Linked DNA regions of Homo sapiens. The protein of the gene in region 1 binds, or shares a complex with, the protein of each later gene. Each region holds a gene or a part of one and is shown in the gene's direction. Other genes may lie near its edges. The genes, in order: CHP2 and SLC9A1.

Evidence for each region.
Region 2: the proteins of CHP2 (region 1) and SLC9A1 are in contact, whole or in part, in a crystal structure (PDB 2BEC), measured with the Homo sapiens proteins. Residues at the interface, in NP_071380.1 of Homo sapiens: Arg30 (codon at 6,922), Arg34 (codon at 6,934), Leu38 (codon at 6,946), Leu51 (codon at 7,098), Ile54 (codon at 7,107), Ala56 (codon at 7,113), Leu57 (codon at 7,116), Asn60 (codon at 7,125), Pro61 (codon at 7,128), Leu62 (codon at 7,131), Ile66 (codon at 7,143), Phe70 (codon at 7,155), Phe83 (codon at 7,329), Leu87 (codon at 7,341), Phe90 (codon at 7,350), Tyr118 (codon at 7,434), Ala119 (codon at 7,631), Leu122 (codon at 7,640), Tyr123 (codon at 7,643), Met136 (codon at 7,682), Val139 (codon at 8,442), Leu140 (codon at 8,445), Met143 (codon at 8,454), Ile156 (codon at 8,493), Arg159 (codon at 8,502), Thr160 (codon at 8,505), Glu163 (codon at 8,514), Ala164 (codon at 8,517), Phe177 (codon at 8,556), Ser180 (codon at 8,771); in NP_003038.2 of Homo sapiens: Ser517, Ile518, Asn519, Glu520, Ile522, His523, Thr524, Gln525, Phe526, Leu527, Asp528, His529, Leu530, Leu531, Thr532, Gly533, Ile534, Glu535, Asp536, Ile537, Cys538, Gly539, His540.

Annotation. Positions count from the first base shown.
Region 1 is NC_000016.10:23,748,760-23,759,361, forward strand, and holds CHP2 (calcineurin B homologous protein 2), read left to right. Parts: upstream 1-6,266; 5' UTR 6,267-6,290; coding exon 6,291-6,357; intron 6,358-6,901; coding exon 6,902-6,974; intron 6,975-7,087; coding exon 7,088-7,168; intron 7,169-7,303; coding exon 7,304-7,434; intron 7,435-7,628; coding exon 7,629-7,690; intron 7,691-8,441; coding exon 8,442-8,564; intron 8,565-8,770; coding exon 8,771-8,824; 3' UTR 8,825-10,176; downstream 10,177-10,602. UniProt on the Homo sapiens protein: Functions as an integral cofactor in cell pH regulation by controlling plasma membrane-type Na(+)/H(+) exchange activity.
Region 2 is NC_000001.11:27,151,792-27,162,532, reverse strand, and holds the start of SLC9A1 (sodium/hydrogen exchanger 1), read left to right. Parts: upstream 1-7,407; 5' UTR 7,408-8,198; coding exon 8,199-8,550; intron 8,551-10,741. UniProt on the Homo sapiens protein: Electroneutral Na(+) /H(+) antiporter that extrudes Na(+) in exchange for external protons driven by the inward sodium ion chemical gradient, protecting cells from acidification that occurs from metabolism.

The DNA of each region.
Region 1 (10,602 bases):
CCTTATTTTTTTCTCCCAAAAGACAGAGAGAGGACCCAAATGACATTTTTGAATGTCACTAATTTGAAATGTTACTTTTATCAAATGCCAAATTTCCATATATATTTGGGTATATTTCTGACTTTCTCCCCTTCTTTCCTTCCTCCCTCCCTCCCTCCCTTCCTTCCTTCCTTCCCTCCCTCCCTCCATCCTTCCTTCCTTCCCTCCCTCCCTCTCTCTTTTTCTCTCTTTCTTTCTTTCTTTTTCTTTCTTTCTTTCTTTCTTTCTTTCTTTCTTTCTTTCTTTCTTTCTTTCTTTCTTTCTTTCTTTCCCTTCCTTCCTTCCTTCCTTCCTTCCTTCCTTCCTTCCTTCCTTCCTTCCTTCCTTCCTTCCTTCCTTCTTTCCTTTCTTTCACACGGGAAAGGGTCTAGCTCTGTCACCCAGGCTGGAGTGCAGTGCTGCGATCTCGGCTCACTGCAACTTCCACCTCCGGGGCTCAAGAATTCTCCCGCCTCAGCCTCCTGAGTAGCTGGGACTACAGGCTGTGCACCATCATGCCCAGCTAATTTTTGTATTTTTTGTAGAGATAGAGTTTTGCCATGTTGCCTGGGCTGGTCTTGAACTCCTGGGCTCAAGTGATCCACCTGCCTCAGCCTCCCAAAGTGCCGCGATTACAGGTGTGAGCCACTACACAAGGCCTCTTGTCTCTGTGTGTGTGTGTGTGTTTTTTAATTGAGATGGAATCTCACTCTGTTTCCCAGGCTGGGGTGCAGTGGTGCGATCTCGGCTCACTGCAACCTCCGCCTCCTGGGTTCAAGCAATTCTCCTGCCTCAGCTTCCTGAGTAGCTGGGATTACACACACCCACAACCACACCTGGCTAGTTGTTATATTTTTAGTACAGACGGGGTTTCACCATGTTGGCCAGGCTGGTCTTGAACTCCTGACCTCATGATCCACCTGCATCGGCCTCCCAAAGTTCTGGATTACCACGCCTGGCCCTTTATTCCTGTTTCTTACCTCTCTATTCCTGGTAGAGGAATTTGTATTTCCCTGATGACTAATGATGTTGATGTCACCCACCCTCATTACTTTTCGTCCCAGAGCTTTCCTGGCTATTCTGTTTTTAATTTTTATTTTTTTGTTTACTTTTTTCTTTCAAATTTTTTTTTTGTTTTATAGTTTGTTTTTAAGAAGACAAAAAAAGATCCCTCTGTAGGTTCAGCTACAGAAATCTTGTTACAACTTTTATTTCCTCTGGAGAGTCAAGTTTGACTGTCTTCTCTGTGCTGTTTTCTTTTAAAAAAGTTTTAATGAGATATAATTCACATACCACACAATTTGCCCATTTAAAGCATGCAATGCAATAGATTTTATTACATTCACAGATATGTGCAACCAAACTATCACCAGAGTCGATTGTAGAACATTTTCATCACCTCAACAAGAAACCCTGGGACCAGGCGCAGTGGCTCACACCTGTAATCCCAGCACTTTGGGAAGCAGAGGCGGGTGGATCGCTTGAGCCCAGGACAGCCTGGGGAACATAGTGAGATCCCATCTCTACAAGAAAACAAACAACAACAACAACAAAAAATTAGCCAGTTGAGATGGCATGTGCCTATAGTCCTAGCTACTAAGGAGGCTGAGGTGGGAGGATCATCTTAGCCCAGGAAGTTGAGGCTGTGGTGAGCCATGATCACTCCACTGCACTGCATCCTGGGTGATAGGAGACCCTGTCTTAAGAAAAAAAAGAAAAAATAAGAAACCCTGTACACTTTAGCTATTATCCCTGACTCCCACCTACCTCCCTTAGCCCTCGGCAATCACTAACCTACTTTTTGTCTCTACGGGTTTGCCTATTCTTAACATTTCATGTAAGTGCAATCATATAATACGTGGTCTTTTGTGACTGGTTTATTTTACTTAGCATAGAGTTTTCAAGGTTCATCCATTTTGTGGCATATATAATACTTCATTACTTTTTATGGCCAAATGATATTCCGTTGTATCAATATACCATGTTTTACTTATCCATTCATCAGTCAAACATTTGGCTTATTTCCAATTTTTGGCTGTTATGAATAGTGTCGCTATGAATATTCACTACAGGTTTTTGTTTGAGCTCCTATTTTCTTTCTTTCTTTCTTTCTTTCTTTCTTTCTTTCTTTCTTTCTTTCTTTCTTTCTTTCTTTCTTTCTTTTTTTTTTTTGAGCCGGAGTCTCGTTCTGTTGCCCAGGTTGGAGTGCAGTGGTGCAATCTCGGCTCACTGCAACCTCTGCCTCCCAGGTTCAAGTGGTTCTCCTGCTTCAACCTCCCAAGTAGCTGGGATTACAGATGCGTGCCACCATGCTTGGCTAATTTTTTTGTATTTTTAGTAGAGATGGGGTTTCATTATGTTGGCCAGGCTGGTCTTGAACTCCTGACCTCAAGTGATCTGCCCACCTCTACCTCCCAGAGGGCTGGGATTACAGGTGTGAGCCACTGTGCCTGGCCTGAGCCCCTATTTTCAATTCTTTTGGGTGTATACCTAGGAGCAGAATTGCTGGGTCACATGGTAATTTTGTTTAGTGTATTGAGAAACTTTCAAACTGTTTTCCACAGTAACTGAACCATTTTACTTTTCCATCAGCAATGAATGAGGCTTCCAACTTTTTCATAGCCTCACTAAGACTTGTTTTTGTTTGTTTTAATTCCAGCCATCTTAGTGGGTATGAAGTGATATCTCATTGTGGTTGGTTTGTATTTCCCTGATGACGAATGATGTGGGGAATCTTTTCATGTACTTATTGGCTAAACATATATGTTTTTTTGGAGAAATGTCTATTCAAGTCCTTTGCCCGTTTAAAAAGTTGGGTCATTTATCTTTTTATTATTGAGTGCTAATTGTTCTGTATTTTCCTGACTATTCCTGGATGTTCATTCTTCTAGTTGAACCTTCACCAAGAATGACTAGCGGCCAGGCGTGGTGGCTCATGCCTGTAATCCCATCACTTTGGGAGGCCGAAGTGGGCAGATCACTTGAGGTCAGGAGTTCGAGACCAGCCTGGCCAACATGGTGAAACCCCATCTCTACTAAAAATACAAAAATTAGCCAGGTGTGGTGGTGCATGCCTGTAATCCCAGCTACTAGGGAGGCTGAGGCAGGAGAATTGCTTAAGCCCAGGAGGCAGAGGTTGCAGTGATCTGAGATGGCGCCACTGCACTCCAGCCTGGGCAACAGAGTAAGACTCTGTCTCAAAAAATTAAATAAGAAAAAAAAAAAAAGAATGACTAGCAACTTTTACATAGCTGAAAAGCAAAAACCAAATATTCCTCCTGACTCTAGTCTAACAGATTCTGCAGATAAAATTTTCCCCAAAGCATCTTCCCGCTTAAATGACCTGAAAAAACTGTGAAGTTGATTTAAGTCTCACTTGTGTACATGAAACAGAAATGAGTTCTAGCATAGCCTGCTCTCTCTCTCTTTCTTTTTTTTTCTTTTTGAGATGGAGTCTTGCTCTGTTACCCAGGCTGGAGTGCAGTGGTGTGATCTTGGCTCACTGCCACACCTGCCTCCCAGGTTCAAGTGATTCTCCTGCCTCAGCCTCCCAAATAGTTGGGATTACAGGCGCCTGCCACCACACCCAGCTAATTTTTTGTATTTTTAGTAGAGACGGGGTTTCACTGTGTTAGCCAGGATAGTCTCAATCTCCTGACCTCATGGTCTGCCCGCCTCAGTCTCCCAAAGGGCTGGCATTATAGGTGTGAGCCACTGTGCCTGGTCCAGCCCTCTCTTAAAAGCTTGTGTATGATGTGTGCATGGGAGTTCCTAATTACTCTCCGGCCTAATTTACTTTGGTGTAGCACTGACTCCAATATTAAGGCTGGAGAAGCCCTTTCCAAGATCAGCATCCCAAGCTGGCCTGCGGTGCTTATCACAGCTTCTTAGGGCTCTCATCTCCTCCTGGGTTCAGAACTGAACCCAAACTACATGCACAGCCTGACTCACAGCTGTGGGTTGCAGTGATTGCTGGGCTTCATTAGGGAGGAGTGTGGTTTCCCGCATGCTTAGTCTTTGGGGGGAGTCTGAAAGAGAATCAAGCATTCCTTATGCCAGTTGCTTAATCCTTGGGGGTATCTGAAAGAAGCAAGCACTTCTTAGATCAATATTTTCAAGACTTATCTGATGCAGGCCTCTGCCTGGGGCTGGAGGATAGACTGTTTCTTCAGCTTCTCTCTCTCCAGGGTGGATATGAACTTGAGCCCTTGCAATGAACTGCTTGCATGTTTTCCCCCCTGGGAAATTTGTGTATGTATGTGCAATTATGATGGGGGAAACGGTTTAAAGATACTTTCAAAAGTGGACACTTCTAGTGTTTGTCCCTTGACAAATGAGTTTCTCGACCTGTTTTTTTTTCATTATCAACGCCTCCCCTAGTCTTTTTAATTTCCCCACCCTCACCCCTACCCCATGAAATTTTATTTTCTTTCTTTTTTTTTTTTTGAGACCAAGTTTCGATCTTTTTGCCCAAGATGGTGTGCAATGGCGCGATCTAGGCTCACCTCAATCTCCACCTCCCGGGTTCAAGCGATTCTCCTGCCTCAGCCTCCCGAGTAGCTGGAATTACAGGCATGCACCACCACGCCCAGCTAATTTTGTATTTTTAGTAGAGACTGGGTTTCTCCATGTTGGTCAGTCTGGTCTCAAACTCCTGACCTCAGGTGATCCGCCCGTCTCGACCTCCCAAAGTGCTGGGATTACAGGCATAAGCCACCGCGCCCGGCCTCTTTTCTTTTCAAGACAGGGTCTCACTCTGTCACCCAGGCTGGAGTGTAATGGCGTGATCATGGCTCCCTGCAGCCTCAACCTCCTGGGCTCAAGTGATCCTCCTGTCTCAGACTCCCAAGTAGCTGAGACTACAGGCATGTGCCACGACACCTGGTTAATTTTTTTTTTTTGTATTCTTTTGTAGAGATGGGGTCTCACTATGTTGCCTAGGCTGGTCTTGAGCTCCTGGGCTCAAGCAATCCTCCTGCCTCTACCTCCCAAAGTGCTGGGATTACAGGCATGAGCCTCCACGTCTGCCCTGAAATTTCAATATCACAGCTATACTGTATATCTATTTATGTGCTGTATGTATGCTGTGCTTTGTACATAAAAAATATGTTTTATTTTTTGCCCCGTTGGGGTGAGATAGAGACCGCACTGAGAATGCACGCTTTACATAATTAGTTCACAACTTGCCCCCGGCAGCCTCCACCACGTAAAATTAGAAGAAAGCAGCCCAGCAGGGCCTACAAGGAATGTGTGAACGGATGCACGTAAAGTGCTTAGCAAAGCGTGGTAAACAAGAGCCCTTGTTGTCATTCTTGCTTTAAGCCTAGTCCCAGTGATGTCTGTAACCCTCTCTTGGGCCAAGGAGTCCCATGGCTCTGGAGGGCTGTTCAGAGGACTAAGTCATTCCCAGTCTGGAGCTCTACGGGATCAGTAGGTACCTAAGGGAGTGAATTGGGCTTGGAGGGACTGTGGCCAGAAGACAGCTCTGGGCCTGGTGGTGATAGAACTTCTGATTTCTCAGGAAAAGCCAAGAATGTGGATTTTGGGTTAAATCTCCTGAATTTTAAGCATTGGCTCAATTAAACAACAATAAGGCAATGTGAACCGAACAAAAGGGATGAAACCAAGATTTACTGACTTTCCCAGAGTCACGGGCACGGCTGGGATTCCAACAAGGACTCCCAAACCAGTGCTCTTTCCACTTAACCTAACGCACACCCTTCATCTCGCCGCCCCTCCCCACTTCCCCGTCTTTGGGAGTTCTTCGATGCCTCTTCCCCCCTCCCCCCAGGATTCCCTCCCCATAGGCCACCCGCCTTCCAGCAGGGCGTGGTCTCTACAGAGGAGGTCAGGTCTCCCAGGCTTCCTCAGCGTCGACGCCGGGGAGCGCCCTGGGGTTGGGAGCGCCCGGGGCCCGCGAAGGAGGAGGTGGCTCAGGTGTCAGGGCGCACCGTGGGAACCGGCCCCGGGGGAGGCGTGGAAACGCGGGGCCTGGGACTCGACCAGCCTCTCCCGTGCGGATCGCAAAATCTCGGAGCTGAAACAGCCCGTTGTTCGCAGCCTCCCTCTGACCCGCCACCCTGCACATTGTTTTCCATTCGCCCGGGTCGCGGGTGGGAGGAGAGGCACGCCGGGGTTCTGGAGCTTGGCCGCGCGCCAGGCTTGTGGCCTTCGTCCCCCTGGGGCCACTGGGGCGGCCACGCCTCTCCGGCGGGAGGAGAGAACGCGTGGGTCCGGGTGGCTGCTCCGGCCCTTCCGCCTCCAGCTCGGCCATGGGGTCGCGCAGCTCCCACGCCGCGGTCATTCCCGACGGGGACAGTATTCGGCGAGAGACCGGCTGTGAGTGCGCCCGCGTCGGCGGCTGCGGAGGGGACGGGGCGAACCCAGGCGTCTGGGGCTAGGGAAGGGGTTGGGTTGAAGGATGGACGAACTTACAAGTCTGGGGTCCGGGGCTCCCCGGAGCTGGAAGACCAAGGCCCCTGTGCCTGGGATCGCTGGGTTAGGGGCGGGTTAACCTAGGGGTCCCAGCCTCCAAGTCTGGGGAGGATCCGGGTTCACGGGGTCGGAGTCCAGAGGAATCCAGGCACCCAGGTGTCCTCCAGCCCGGCTCGAAGCTGAAGGCAGAGCTGACGGCGGTTGGAAGGGATGGCTTTGGTTCTTTGGTTTTCGGGAGGTTGCGAGCCGCCCGGGTCTTGAACCTGGATCTTCGCGGGGTCGTGTCACTCTCCCTCCGCCCCGGCCAGCTCAACCCCTGATTCCCCGGGATGATCGCCCCTTCCAGCCAGCCCCCGCTGTTCTGGCCCATCTTCCTGGCCTGTTGGGGCGGGTTTCTGGAGCTGGCCCTGCAGAGTCACACACCCCCACCCCACTCTCCTTCCCGCAGTCTCCCAAGCCAGCCTGCTCCGCCTGCACCACCGGTTCCGGGCACTGGACAGGAATAAGAAGGGCTACCTGAGGTGAGGGGGAGCCGGCCTCATAACTTCTGGCCTCTGTCTCTCTGACTCCATGTCCCTCTTTGACCCTCCGTCTGGCATCTCTGCCTTACCCTCTTTGAAATTTGGCTTTGCAGCCGCATGGATCTCCAGCAGATAGGGGCGCTCGCCGTGAACCCCCTGGGAGACCGAATTATAGAAAGCTTCTTCCCCGATGGGTGAGGCTTGCTGGGCGTGGGGAGGTGAAGGCGGGAAAACCGGTGTGTGAGTGGGTGGGAGGGGAGGTTAGAGACGGAGGCAAAGTGATGGCCAAGGTGACCACCACCTCTTTCCATTCTGTCCCGTCTCCCCAGGAGCCAGCGAGTGGATTTCCCAGGCTTTGTCAGGGTCTTGGCTCATTTTCGCCCTGTAGAAGATGAGGACACAGAAACCCAAGACCCCAAGAAACCTGAACCTCTCAACAGCAGAAGGAACAAACTTCACTGTGAGTTTGTGAGGACCTGCACAAGTGAGAATGCAGATGTACCCACACCAGGGACAGGCTCCAGGGATCTCCCACTCCCTTCCTGAGGGCATTGACAACCTCCCCCCTCCTCCAAGGTGGGGGGAAGGAAGGTGGCTGCTGGAAGAGAGCCAGGGAAGACCTACCTTCCTTTCCCCCTCCCACCCTCTCCCCAGATGCATTTCAGCTCTATGACCTGGATCGCGATGGGAAGATCTCCAGGCATGAGATGCTGCAGGTTGGCAGAAAGCGAGAGCAAGAGATGTGATGTGTGAAGGATGGGATGGTTAAATGCAATGGTGTGAGAGATGGGGTGGGATGATTGGGGAACTGGGGCGCAGATAATTGGGGTATTGGTTGGGAAATGGGAATGGGTGCAGTTAGAGTGTGGGTTTGTTGGGAGTCGGAGTGGGGAGCAGTTGACTATGAGGTTGGGAATAGATCAGTGATTCTCAACTGGGGGTGATTTTGCTCCCTGAGTGAATATCTGGCAATATCTGGAGATGCTTTTTGTTGTCACAATGGGGGAGAGAGTGTGCTACTGGCATCTAGTGGGTAGAGGTCAGGAATGTGGCTATATATCATGCAATACCCAGGAGAGCCTCTTCCAACAAGGAGTTACCTGGCTCCAAATGTCAACAGTGCCAAGATTGAGAAACTCTGGAACAGATGTGATGGAATGAGGATGGAATTAGAAACCCTTAGTGGCTAAGGTGGAGAATGGTGTGGAGGATGGATGGAGGTTGGGTGATAAAGTTGGGTAATGAGTTTGAGCATATTTTGAGGGTAGTGCAGGATGGTGAGGGAGAGATAGGAGATTGGTTGTTGAAGCAGTAGGGAAAATTATTGGGGGATATGGTGAAAAATGGATGAAGGATGGATTATAAAATTAGCAATAACTTTTGGGATGAGGTGGGCAAGGTTTAGGAGATGGGGAGTTGCAGCCTTCGTGCCCCCTCCTTATGGCTGCCTCTTCACTCATCTCTCAGGTTCTCCGTCTGATGGTTGGGGTACAGGTGACAGAAGAGCAGCTGGAGAACATCGCTGACCGCACGGTGCAGGAGGCTGATGAAGATGGGGATGGGGCTGTGTCCTTCGTGGAGTTCACCAAGGTCAGAGTGCCCTTGGGGATTGGGGAGTTGAGATCAGGAGTTCTGGGGCAGACAGACTTGGGAAACGTTCAACGGAGGAGGGCGGAAAGATAGGGGTTGCCTGGGAATGATGGGGTCTCTGGAATGGGTAGAACCCTGGGGGAGGAGGTTGGGAGCATGGAGAGCTGAGAGTCAAGCCTCTTGCCTGCCATTTGTTTTTCCCTCAGTCCTTAGAGAAGATGGACGTTGAGCAAAAAATGAGCATCCGGATCCTGAAGTGACTCCGTTTGTGCCTTGGGCTTGCTCCTGCAACCAGTATCTCCTTGGAATTCATCCAAAGCCCCCATGGACGCATGGACGCAGGGCGACAATAAACTGTATTTTCGTTTCTAACTCTATTTAGGGCCAAGAGAAGAAAGCTGGAAGGATGTGTACTAAAGTCTAGCTCAGCAGTCCCCAACCTTTTTGGCATCAGGGACAGTTTTTCCACGGATGGGTGACAGGGGATGGTTTTGGGATGATTCAAGTGCATTACATTTATTGTGCACTTTATTTCTATTATGATTACATTGTAATATATAATGAAATAATTATACAACTCACCATAATGTAGAATCAGCAGGAGCCCTGAGCTTGTTTTCCTGCAATTAGACGGTCCCATATGGGAGTGATGGGAGACAGTGACAGATCATCAGGCATTAGATTCTCATAAGGAGTGCACAATCTAGATCCTTTGGTGTGCAGTTCACAGTAGGATTTGGGCTCCTATGATAATCTAATGCCACTGCTGATCTGACAGGAGGCAGAGCTCAGGCGGTAATGCAAGCAATGGGGAGTGGCTGTAAATATAGATGAAGCTTCAGCTCGCCTGCCGCTCACCTTGTGCTGTGCAGCCCGGTTCCTAACAGACCACAGACCCCACACCAGGTCTATCTCATTTGGTCTCAGAGCTGTGAATCAGCCAGCAATATTTTAGTTGCAAATCACTGAAAACCCAACTCAAAGTGACTTAAGTCAGAAAGAAATTTTATGAATTCAGGTAATTAAAAAGTCCAGAAGTATCTGCCTTTAGGCACAGCTGGATCCAAGGGCACAAATGATGTCATCAGGCTCCAGTTATTCTCCATCTCCCAGCTCAGCTTTTTCTGTCTGTAAGCCTGATTTTCAGGAAGGCTCTTTCCTAGTGATGGAGATGACCACCATCAGCTCCAGGCTTCTATCCTGCTAACCCAGTAACCCAGTGGGAAGAGATTTACTTATTCCAATAATTCCAAGTGGAGAGTGTCATTGACCCGTTTGGGGTCTCATCTCTACTTCTAGGGGAATGAAACACTCTGAGTGGCCAGGCCTGTGTCATGTGCTAATTCCTAGAGCCAGGGAAATAAGGTCTGAGGATTCAGGATGGGGTGAAAGGTGGTTGCTTAAAGGAAAATGAAATACAATTAGCAGAATAAGGGGAAACGAGTGGTCTGCTCTGCTCGGGCAAAACAAGAGATGCCCATTACTGTGAGGGACCCTTGAAGTCTGGACTCTTAAATGGGTTTTTGCTGATTTCCTGGGTGCATGCTAGGATGATGGGGCTTGATGCAGTAGGGAAGAGACGATGTAAAAATAATAAACAATATATACCTTCCTAGAGTGTGAATGCATTCGAAGATTCTAAGAGTAAGCTTGTTTTCATGGTAAGATGTTCAAACATTGATATAAGATGGAATGGAGCAGGAAGTCCCATAAAACTATGAGACTCTATGTCTGCAGCAGAGCTCTCTGGTTGCACCTGTGGGAGACACTGTAATTGCCCTGCTGTTTTTCTCCCTCCCAGAGCTGGTCTTTGGTTGTCTTGTATCATCAACACATGAGAACCAGTTGTGCTCATAACATCTCAACTCTGCTTTCAATGATATGTTAGCAGCTTGAAACTGGCTATAGCAGGAATATTTACACCACAGACATTGGTAACTGCAACAGGTTAAGGCTTTTTCCTCCTGGAAAGCCAGTTGTTAAACATTTATCTGCACACTACCTGCTAGACATTTCCCATTACTTTGCATGCCAATGG
Region 2 (10,741 bases), on another chromosome or scaffold:
TATACTGTATGTGAGAAGGTGAAACATGCTATACAAAGAAGAAAAAAGGAGCAGGGGAAGGGGCTGGGTGGTAGTGGTGGTGGCCAGGCAGGGGAAGTGTCACTATTACATAGGATTATAACATAGTAGGCCATGTCAGGAAGCGAGATTCGCAGAAAGGCTTGAAGGAGGTCAGGTAACCAGCCATGTGGATATCTGGGGAAGAGTGTTCCAGGCAGAAGGAATAGCAAGTGCAAAGACCCTGAGGCAGAAGTGTGTCTGCCAGTGTTTGAGAAATAGAAGGAGGCAGTGGTGAAGTGAGTGCCGGGGAGACTGGAAGAAGGCTTTGCTGGGCTGTGACATTATGATGAAAGAAGGAGCGGCTGAGTACAATGGCTTACCCCTGTAATCCCAATACTTTGGGAGGCCCAGGCAAGAGAATCAATCAAGACCAGGGGTTTGAGACCAGCCTGGGCAATATAGTAAGACCCTATCCCTACCAAAAATATTTTTAAAAATTAGTCAGGTGTGGTGGCATGTACCTGTAGTCCAAGCTGCTCGGGAGGGCGAGGCTGGAGGATCGGTTGAGCCCAGGAGTTTGAGGTTGCTGTGAGCTATGATTGCACCATTGTACTCTAGCCTAGGTGACAGCAAGACTCTGTCTCAAAAAAAAAAAAAAACAAAAGAAGGAAATGAACCCAGTCACTGCGTGCTGACTGTGTACCAGGAACTATGCTTGACATACAGTGGCCTTTTCATCCTTACAATAAACCTTACAAAGCAAGTAATGTGACTCCACCCAGCTTTCATATACATGAACACAGCGAGAGACAGAAACAAGGTGTGACTTGCTCATAATGCGCAGCTAATAGGGGCTGAGCAGATTCTTTCCTAGGGCCATGCATTTTGTGCCATAAAACTCCAGGCACTTTTAGTGAAAGGATTCAAGGAGGGGATTGGGGAGCAGACATGGCTTAAGCAGGGGGAGATGCCACCCAGGGTCCAGGCTTCCTGAGGCTGTCCTGGATCTGCAGGGGAAGGGTCTGCAGAGACCTGGCCTCTCCGAGTCAAAAGCAGTGTGGGCCTGGAATGGTTAAAAAATGAGGACTTGGCCGGGTGTGGTAGCTCACGCCTGTAATCCCAGCACTTTTAGAGGCCGAAGCAGGTGGATCACCTGAGGTCAAGAGTTCGAGACCAGCCTGGCCAACATGGTGAAACCCTGTGTCTACAAAAAATACAAAAAATTAACTGGGCATGGTGGCAGGCGCCTGTAATCCCAGCTACTCGGGAGGCTGAGGCAGCAGAATCGCTTGAACCCAGGAGGCAGAGGTTGTAGTGAGCTGAGATCGCGCCATTGCACTGCAGCCTGGGCAACAAGAGTGAAACTCCATCTTAAAAAAACAAAAAACAAAAAACAAAAAATGACTTGCTCAAACATGGTTACAAATATTGCTATGTATTTTAACTGATTTTTTTTTTTCTTTTTTGAGATGAGAGTCTTGCTCTGTCGCCCAGGCTGGAGTGCAGTGGCGCGATCTCAGCTCACTGCAAGCTCCGCCTCCCGGGTTCACGCCATTCTCCTGCCTCAGCCTCCCGAGTAGCTGGGACTACAGGCGCCCGCCACCACGCCCGGCTAATTTTATGTATTTTTAGTAGAGACGGGGTTTCACCGTGTTAGCCAGAATGGTCTTGATCTCCTGACCTCGTGATCCGCCCACCTCAGCCTCCCAAAGTGCTGGGATTACAGGCGTGAGCCACCGCGCCTGGCCTTGACTGATTATTTTTAAGAAGACAAGGCTTTTAAGGCCGAAGCGGGCGGATCACGAGGTCAGGAGATCGAGACTATCCTGGCTAACACGGTGAAACCCCATCTCTACTAAAAATACAAAAAATTAGCCGGGCGTGGTGGCAGGTGCCTGTAGTCCCAGCTACTCGGGAGGCTGAGGCAGGAGAATGGCGTGAACCCGGGAGGCGGAGCTTGCAGTGAGCTGAGATTGCACCACTGAACTACAGCCAGGTCGACAGAGCGAGACTCAGTCTCAAAAAAAAAAAAAAAAAAAAAGAAGAGGAAGAAGAAGATAAGGCTTTTAACATACAATACACATCAATGTGATTTATTTACAAATATTAAATTCATAGCAGCTGGTCTGATGGTGGGACCCATCTCACGGATGTGAGGGTCTGTTTTCCAGCCTGTCAATTTTCTCTGTGACTGAAGGCAGAACTTCATGTGGTTCCCAACATCAAAAGTCTACTCTTGAGGTCCTCGGTGCATGTAAATAAATAGAATGATGGTAAATATATGTGGTACTTGCTGGGGGCAGTGGTAAATGCTTCGCATACATTGGCTAATATCTTCATGAGAGCCCCATGAGGTTGACACTATTGTTGTCCCCCCTTATGGAGGAAGAAGCTGTAGAACAGGCACTGATTTGCCCAGGGTCTCATGACTAGTGAGCGGTGGTGCCAGAGCACTGAAAGGAGACCATGTGGCTACCCATGTTCGGCAGTCCCAGCATTTAACTATCCATTATTCTACACTGCCTGCCCAGGCTGGGCCTTGGCCATCGGCTCTCCCATGTGGTTTCTCCCAAGGCCTGTTTCCTGATATTGTTCTGTTGTTATAACCTTCTCCAGGCCGTGGAGGATCTCAGGGCTGGCATTTCCTGGTTGTCCTGGGATCTACCACGTCCCAGACTGGCACCCAAAGACTCACTGAGGCCTGAGTGAGGGAGAATTAGAGAGTGGGGAGCACACCAGTGAACGTTGCCTTCAAGACTGGAAAGAACAGTAGGTCTTGGGCTTCTGGCCCCAGGGCACCTGTGGAAAGTCACTCCACCAGCCCCATCCTTTCCCTCTTTTCTTCTTTTTACACTGAACCTGTGATGTTTTAAAAGGGTGCTGGACTTAGGTGTTAGAAACCTGACTTAAGTCTTGGATCTGCTTCTTTTTTTAAATTTTAATTTAATTTTATTGGCTCACTGCAACCTCTGCCTCCCAGGTTCAAGTGATTCTCCTGCCTCAACCTCCTGAGTAGCTGGGATTACAGGTGCCTGCCACCACGCCCAGCTAATTTTTGTATTTTCAGTAGAGATGGGGTTTCACCATGTTGCCCAGGCTGGTCTTGAACCTCTGACTTCAAATGATCTGCCCGGCTCGGCCTCCTAAAGTGCTGGGATTACAGGTGTAAGCCACTGTGCCAGGCATGGATCTGCATCTTAATAGATGTGTGACCTTGGGCAAATAGCTTTATGTCTCTGGGCCTTTGTCTTTTCACCTGTAAAATGGGAATGAGAATAATAGCTACTCTTTGGCCAGATGCGGTGACTCACGCCTGTAATCCTAGCACTTTGGGAGGCCAAGGCAGGTGGATTACCTGAAGTCAGGAGTTCCTGACCAGCCTGGTCAACGTGGTGAAACCCCATCTCTACCAAAAATATAAAAATTAGCTGGGTGTGGTAGCAGCCGCTTGTAATCCCAGGTACTCGGGAGGCTGAGGCAGGAGAATCACTTGAACCTGAGAGGTGGAGATTGCAAGTGAGCCAAGATCGCCACTGCACTCCAGCCTGGGTGACAAGAGTGAAACTCTGTCTCAAAAGAAAAAAATAGAATAATAGGTACTGTTTTTTCTGAGACAGGGTCTCACTCTGTCACCCAGGCTGGAGTGCAGTGGTGTGATCTCAGCTCACTGCAAGCTCTGCCTCCTGGGTTCAAGTGATTCTCGTGCCTCAGCCTCCCAAGTAGCTGGGACTACAGGCACATGCCACCACACCCAGCTAATTTTTGCATTTTTAGTAGATACGGGGTTTCGCTGTGTTGGCCAGGCTGGTCACAAACTCTTGACCTCAGGTGATCCACCTGCCTCGACCTCCCAAAGTGCTGGGGTTACAGGCATGAGCCACCGCACCCAGCCTAGCATTTGGATCATTGATAAACCTGGGGCACTTGGTTGTGAACTCTAAAGGGCTGAACAATTGTGAGGCATTATTGTTATTATTCTGATCCTTGCTCGAAATGCTCTTTGGTTACTTTCATTATAGCTGATGTTCTCCTTTCATCTGCTCCCAGATGACACAAGTCCCCTGCCCTTCTCTGAAGTCTCTTTTGTCATTTCCCAGGTGGCTGGAATTTGTGCCTGGAGAATGTGAGGTACAGAGAACTCAGTTTAGGCATGGGATTATAAAAAAAGAGAGAGAGAGAGAGAACTCAGTTTAATGTTGCCACCTTCAGTTACTATCATATCACTTTATTAATTATTTTATTTTTATATTCATTTATTTATTTTGAGACAGAGTCTCCCTCTGTCACCCAGGGTGGAGTGCAGTGGCACAATCTCAGCTCACTGCAACCTCCGTCTCCTGGGTTCAGGGGATTCTCCCACCTCAGCCTCCCAAGTAGCTGGGACTATAGGTATGCTCCACCACGCCCAGCTAATTTTTGTATTTTTTGGTAGAGACAGGGTTTTGCCATGTTAGCCAGGCTGGTCTTGAACTCCTGACCTCAAGTGATCTGCCTGCCTCAGCCTCCCACAGTGCTGGAATTACAGGCGTGAACCACTGTGCCTGGCCTAATTAATTTTTAGAGATGGGTCTCACTATGTTTCCCAGGCTGGAGTGCAGTGGCTATTTCACAAGCACAATCATAGTGCATTACAGCCTCAAATTCCTGGGTTCAAGTGATTCTTCTGCCTCAGCCTCCCAAGTAGCTGGGACTACAGGTGCATGCCACTGCACCTGGATATTATTATTTTATTTTACTTATTTTTTTTAAAGACAGGGTCTCCCTATGTTGCCTAGGTTGGTCTTAAACTCCTGGCCTCAACTGATACTCCCATCTCAGGCTCCTGAGTTGCGGGGATTACAGGCATGAGCCACTGCTGCTAGCTTATTATTATTTTAATATATTTTTCCATGGAAGGATAGCATACCTAGAAAAAGGTGCACACATCTTGAGTCTTCAGTGAGTTATCACGAAACAACTACGTCGCTGTAACCTTTGTAGCTATCACCCAGTAAAGAAATAGAACATTACCAGCATTCTAGAAGCCCTCATTATGTCCACTTTATGCCCCCTCCCAATTCCTACCACCTCCTTCCTCCCTCTGGCTTATCTCTGTGTTGCCAGAGCCCAGCACAAAGCCCTGTCAAGAGGCCCAGTAAACATTTGTTAAACTAAATTGAATCTCAAGTACTTGTGATGTGACCTTGAGCTAGACACTTTGACTGTTTTGGCCTTAATGTACTCTTCTGCAAAACAGGGACAGCATTTCAGTGATTTCTATACCTCCCAACCCTAGTTGTATATCAGAGCCTTTGAAAAAAATACTTTGGCACTACCCTGAAGTAATTGAATCTAAATCTCTGACGGTGGGTCCCCGAAAATGATATTTTACAAAAGATGATGATGATGATGATTACTATGATTGACAGGGTCTCCCTTTGTTGCCCAGGCTAGAGTGCTGTGGTGGATCATAGTTCACTGTAGTCTCAAACTCCTAGGTTCAAATGATACTCCTGCCTCAGCCTCCCAAGCAGCTAGGACTACCAAGCACAGCTAATTTTATCAGACAATGGTATTTATTTTTATTTATTTATTTTTTTTTGAGACAGAGTCTCGCTCTGTTGCCCAGGCTGGAGTACAGTGGTGCAATCTTGACTTACTGCAACCTCCGCCTCCTGGGTTCAAGTGATTCTCTTGCCTCAGCCTCCTGACTAGCTGGGATTACAGGCATGTGCCACCACGCCCGGCTAATTTTTTTTTTTTTTTTTTTTTTTTGAGACGGAGTCTCGTTCTGTCGCCCAGGCGGGAGTGCTGTGGCGCGATCTCCGCTCACTGCAAGCTCCGCCTTCCGGGTTCACGCCATTCTCCTGCCTCAGCCTCCCGAGTAGCTGGGACTACAGGCGCCCGCCACTGCGCCCGGCTAATTTTTTGTATTTTTAGTAGAGACCGGGTTTCACCGTGGTCTCGATCTCCTGACCTCGTGATCCGCCCGCCTCGGCCTCCCAAAGTGCTGGGATTACAGGCGTCAGCCACTACGCCCGGCCTAGACAATGGTATTTTAAAAAAGCTTTCCAGTGATTCCATTGTACAGCCATGATCCCTTGAACCTCACCAATTTCAACCAAACTATAGGTTCAAATTTAAGTTCCACTACTTAAAGCATGCCACTGTTGTGGGTTGAATTGTGTCCCGGCAAAAGAAGTTGAAGTCCTAATGCCCAGTGCCTATGAAGATGGACTAATTAGGATGCAGTCTTTGAAGATGTTCAGGTTAAGATGAGGTAATTACGTTGGATTTCTAATCCAATGACTGGTGTCCTTATAAAAAGGGGAAATCTGGCTGGGGGTTGTGGCTTACCCCTGTAATCCCAGCACTTTGGGAGGCCGAGGCGGGTGGATCACCTGAGGTCAGGAGTTCGAGACCAGCCTGACCAACATGGTGAAACCCCATCTCTACTAAAAATACAAAAATTAGCTGGACGTGGTGGTGGGTGCCAGTAATCCCAGCTACTCTGGAGGCTGAGGCAGGAGAATCGCTTGAATCCAGGAGGCAGAGGTTGCATTGAGCTGAGATGGCGCCACCGCACTCCAGCCTGGGCAACAAGAGCCAGACTCTATCTCAAAAAAAATAAAAATAAAAATAAAGTGTGGGCGGGGAATCTGGACGCAGAGACAGAGACACCAGGAGAACTCCATGGAATACCAGATAGTCCTAACAAACCACTGGAAGGTAGGAGAAAGGCATGGGACAGATTCTCCCTCATAGCTCTCAGCTGAAACCAACCCTGCCAACACCTAGATCCGACCTCCAGCCTCCAGAACTGTGAGACAATCAATTTCTGTTGTTGCAGCCACCCAGTTTGGGGTGATACTTTGTTACGGCAGCCCTAGTAAGCAATACAACTACTTGCATAGTAGCCAGGGGACTCTCTTCACCTGTTTCCTCATCTGTAAAAGTGGAATTGTAATAATGTGCCAGGGTGCATTCCAAATAGTTTACACGGATTGTCTCAGTCATTACATCATCCCTCTGACATAGTCACTATTACTGTCTCTACTTAACAGATGAGAAAGTTGTGAAACAGGTTAAGTAACTTGCTCAAGGTCACACGGTAACTAAATACATAAACTAATAATACATTCTTCACAGGATTATTCGAAAGCCCTTATGAGACTGCAGATGTGGACGTGAAATCGTTTTGTAAGTAGTCGGCATTTTACTCGCGTTAGTGAGGTTCTCTGTATATTCAGGACTTTTTTTTTTTTTTTTTTTTGTCATCTCTGACTCTCCTTCCTCTTCCTACGCGATACTTCTTTCCCTCGGCGACAGGGGCCGCTGCGCTGGGCGGGTGCCGACGGTCTCTCTAGCCCGCCGCACCGGCTGCTCGCTGGTGCCTATAAGTGACAGCGCCGGGCTCAGCTAGGCTTCAGTCTGCTGCCGCCGGGGCCGGGGCTAGGGTTAGTTCTGGAGCTGGACCAGGAGGAGCTGCAGCTGGGCCGGGGCGGAGCGCCGCGTCGCGCCAGGGCCGCGAGGAGGGGCGTGTTGCTGCTGGCCCACCGCGAGCCGCCCCCAGCCCGCGCCGAGGCGCCTTCCCGCCAGGCCGCCTGCCTTCCGCCTCTTTCCATTTCCCCGGAATCTCAGCCCGGCGCGCCTGGACCCCTGCCCCTCTCTGGGTGGAGAAGCTCCCGGCCGCTTCCCGGTTTCACTCCTTCTCAGCCTGGGCTCCCAGCCCCCTCTCTCCTTTTCCTGGACTGGCTCTCACCCCCTTCGGTCCCCTTCCTTTAGCTCAGGCTCCCTACCCCTTCCTTTAGCCCACAGCCCAGAGTCCCAGCTCCTCAGTCACTTTCCTCAGCCAAAGGTCCCAGCCTTCCTTCTTCCTTTCCTTTGCACTATCCCTATCCTGCCCCTTCCTCTATCCCTAGGGCTCAGTTTCCCACATCCGTCCTCCCCCTTCCCAGGCCCGGAGTTCCAGACCTTTTGGTCTCCTTTCGTGGTCGTTCCTGGGTCCTTGCCCCCTTTCCCCACTTTGGAGTTCCAGATTGCAAACCCAGCCTCCCTCCACCCCCAGAAAATTGCTTCCATGGAAATGCCTCTCTAAAACATGAACTTTTCCTAGAGACTACGCCAGTCTCTCTTCCCACTTGCTGACCCTTTGCTACCTATGTGCCCGGTTTTACTCTCATTTGGGTAAGGTCGAGGCTGGCTCTGGAAGCAGCACCATGGTTCTGCGGTCTGGCATCTGTGGCCTCTCTCCACATCGGATCTTCCCTTCCTTACTCGTGGTGGTTGCTTTGGTGGGGCTGCTGCCTGTTCTCAGGAGCCATGGCCTCCAGCTCAGCCCAACTGCCAGCACCATTCGAAGCTCAGAGCCACCACGAGAACGCTCGATTGGGGATGTCACCACCGCTCCACCGGAGGTCACCCCAGAGAGCCGCCCTGTTAATCATTCCGTCACTGATCATGGCATGAAGCCGCGCAAGGCCTTTCCAGTCCTGGGCATCGACTACACACACGTGCGCACCCCCTTCGAGATCTCCCTCTGGATCCTTCTGGCCTGCCTCATGAAGATAGGTAAGTCCCGTTTGCTCCGATGCTGCGGCCGCCACCAGACTGGTGAGCTTCTTGCCTCATCTCGCACCATTTGAGGCTGTCCAGGAGTAAGGATCTGAACTACCCCCATAAAGTAGGCAGTCTCCATCCTGCCACCTTGGTCCTTCTCAGGCTCCAGTTCTGTGGCTTCTGATCTGTGATCTGAGGCTTCCCAAGATTGGAGCCAGCACTGTGCACAGAAGAGAGCAGGATTAGAGAATGGGATGCCTCTGATCCTAGGTCCCTTCAGTAAGGCTTCCACGACTGGCAAGTCTCCTCTGGCTGGGCCAGACCCCCAGGGGAGCCAGGCACCCCGCTGTGTGTGAGACAGAAAGGAGTGTCTTCTGGCGAGTGGCACATTCTGCTCTGTCAACAGCAACCAGTGCAATTTATGACAGGCTTCACTGGAGCGTGTTCCAGGATGGAGTATATTTCTACTTGGCCTGCTTGAGGAGTTTAAGCATAGTGGAGACCTGGGCACAGGAAACTTACAAGTGTGGTGGAACACAGGGGATCCCCATATTCCCACCTTTCCTTCATCTCCAGAATGTTATCTGTCAGCTTTGCTTGTCCAGGCTAGTTAGGAGCCCCTGAGTCAATTTCCGGCCCAGGAATGCCATACTTTATAGAATCTGTGGGACAAGGGGCCCTGGAAATTTCTGAAGTCTGTTTTGGAAGTGGAGGGAGAGTAGAGGAGGTTGAGGCTTGGTCTGACCCCAGCTCACCCCCAGGTCGCTGCCTGGCTGTGTCTCAGGGTGCTGTCTGGCCTGCTGCTCAATCAAGTAGATGAGGTAGATGGGGGAGCCTAGGGATGTTCAGGCCTGAAGAGACTTTGAAACCTTCTTTTGGGGAGAAGGAAACAGACAACTTATTTGCTCTCAGAGTATTGGTCTCCCTGCTAGGCCTGAGCACTCTGTTCTGCTGAGTGATTGGGGGAGCTTACTGGAGCCTACATTGCCCAGAAGTCCCTGAAAGTGGTGTTCAGGGGGACTTTGACAACTGCCTTTGCATTTTCAGCTTGCCCCCAGCTGGCTGTGGAAGGCATGAGGTCCTGGGACTCTGCTGTCCCCTCTGCCTGAGATTTGGGTTTGGGAATTTGGCAGGAAACCTTCCAGCTCTCCCAAGGACATGCAGGAGCTGAGCGGTGCTGCCGGGCTGGTGTGAGGCAGGCTCTGGGACATGCAGCGGGAGGGAAGTGGTGCCTCTAATTTGACAGATCCAGGAGCTGGGTTCCTGGTGCAGGGCTCTTGTGCCAAGCTGGTCACAGTAGCAGAGCCTTACATGGAACTAAGCCATCAGCACCTATACCTTGATGGCAGTTAGCTTCCTGGAGAGAAATCAAGGACTGGACAAGGGGAACCATGTGTACTGATTCTGACATAAATGCATGACCTTGAATAGCTGAGGCCTTTTTCTGCAGGTCTCCCTCACCTGTGAAATGGTTAAGACTCTCAATTTGACCACACCAATTGAGTCATGAAATGTCGTCTGATTTGCTGTAAGAAGCTGAAGTGACAGTGATGTCATTTGACTGTGTGAGACCAGGAGGAGACCTCACAAGTGCAATCTATAAATTGCCTCCTGTCCCCGATCCCCTCACCTGCCCACCACACCTGGCATTACATTAGGGCATTCAGGGCTGGCAGACACACTTTGAGTGTCAGTGGCTGCTGGTGGGATGACAGCATGACTGCAGAGACCCCACTCTAGGCAGTCAGAAGTTTGTCCCTGCAGGCCTGGTATCTCTAGTGCTAATGAGGTCAGCTTGGCCTGGCCTGCTTTGTCACCACCCAAGTGCTGTGCCCGGGACCCTGGGCAGCTGGAGAGCAGAGATGGTGTCATGGCAACAATATCAGTCTAGAAGTCAGGAAAACCTGGCTTCTCTTCCTACCTCCCTCTGTCCTTGGACCAGTCACGCCTCCCTACCCATCAGTTGATCTTTGTGGTCCCTTCCAGGTGTGATATTTCTGTCATTCCACTGACTCTGGAAACTCTGGCAAGTCACTCAGCCTTGGACCTCAGTTTTCCCATTGTAAAATGATGAGGCTGGATGTGGTCTCCTTTCCAAAAGTCTGTTTCTGCCTTGGAAAGGCATTTTTCTGCCTCTGAAAACAGGAGTTCTAGCATCTGGCCATGAGTGGAGAGAAAGGTGGTCTAAAGATCTGAAGAGTCC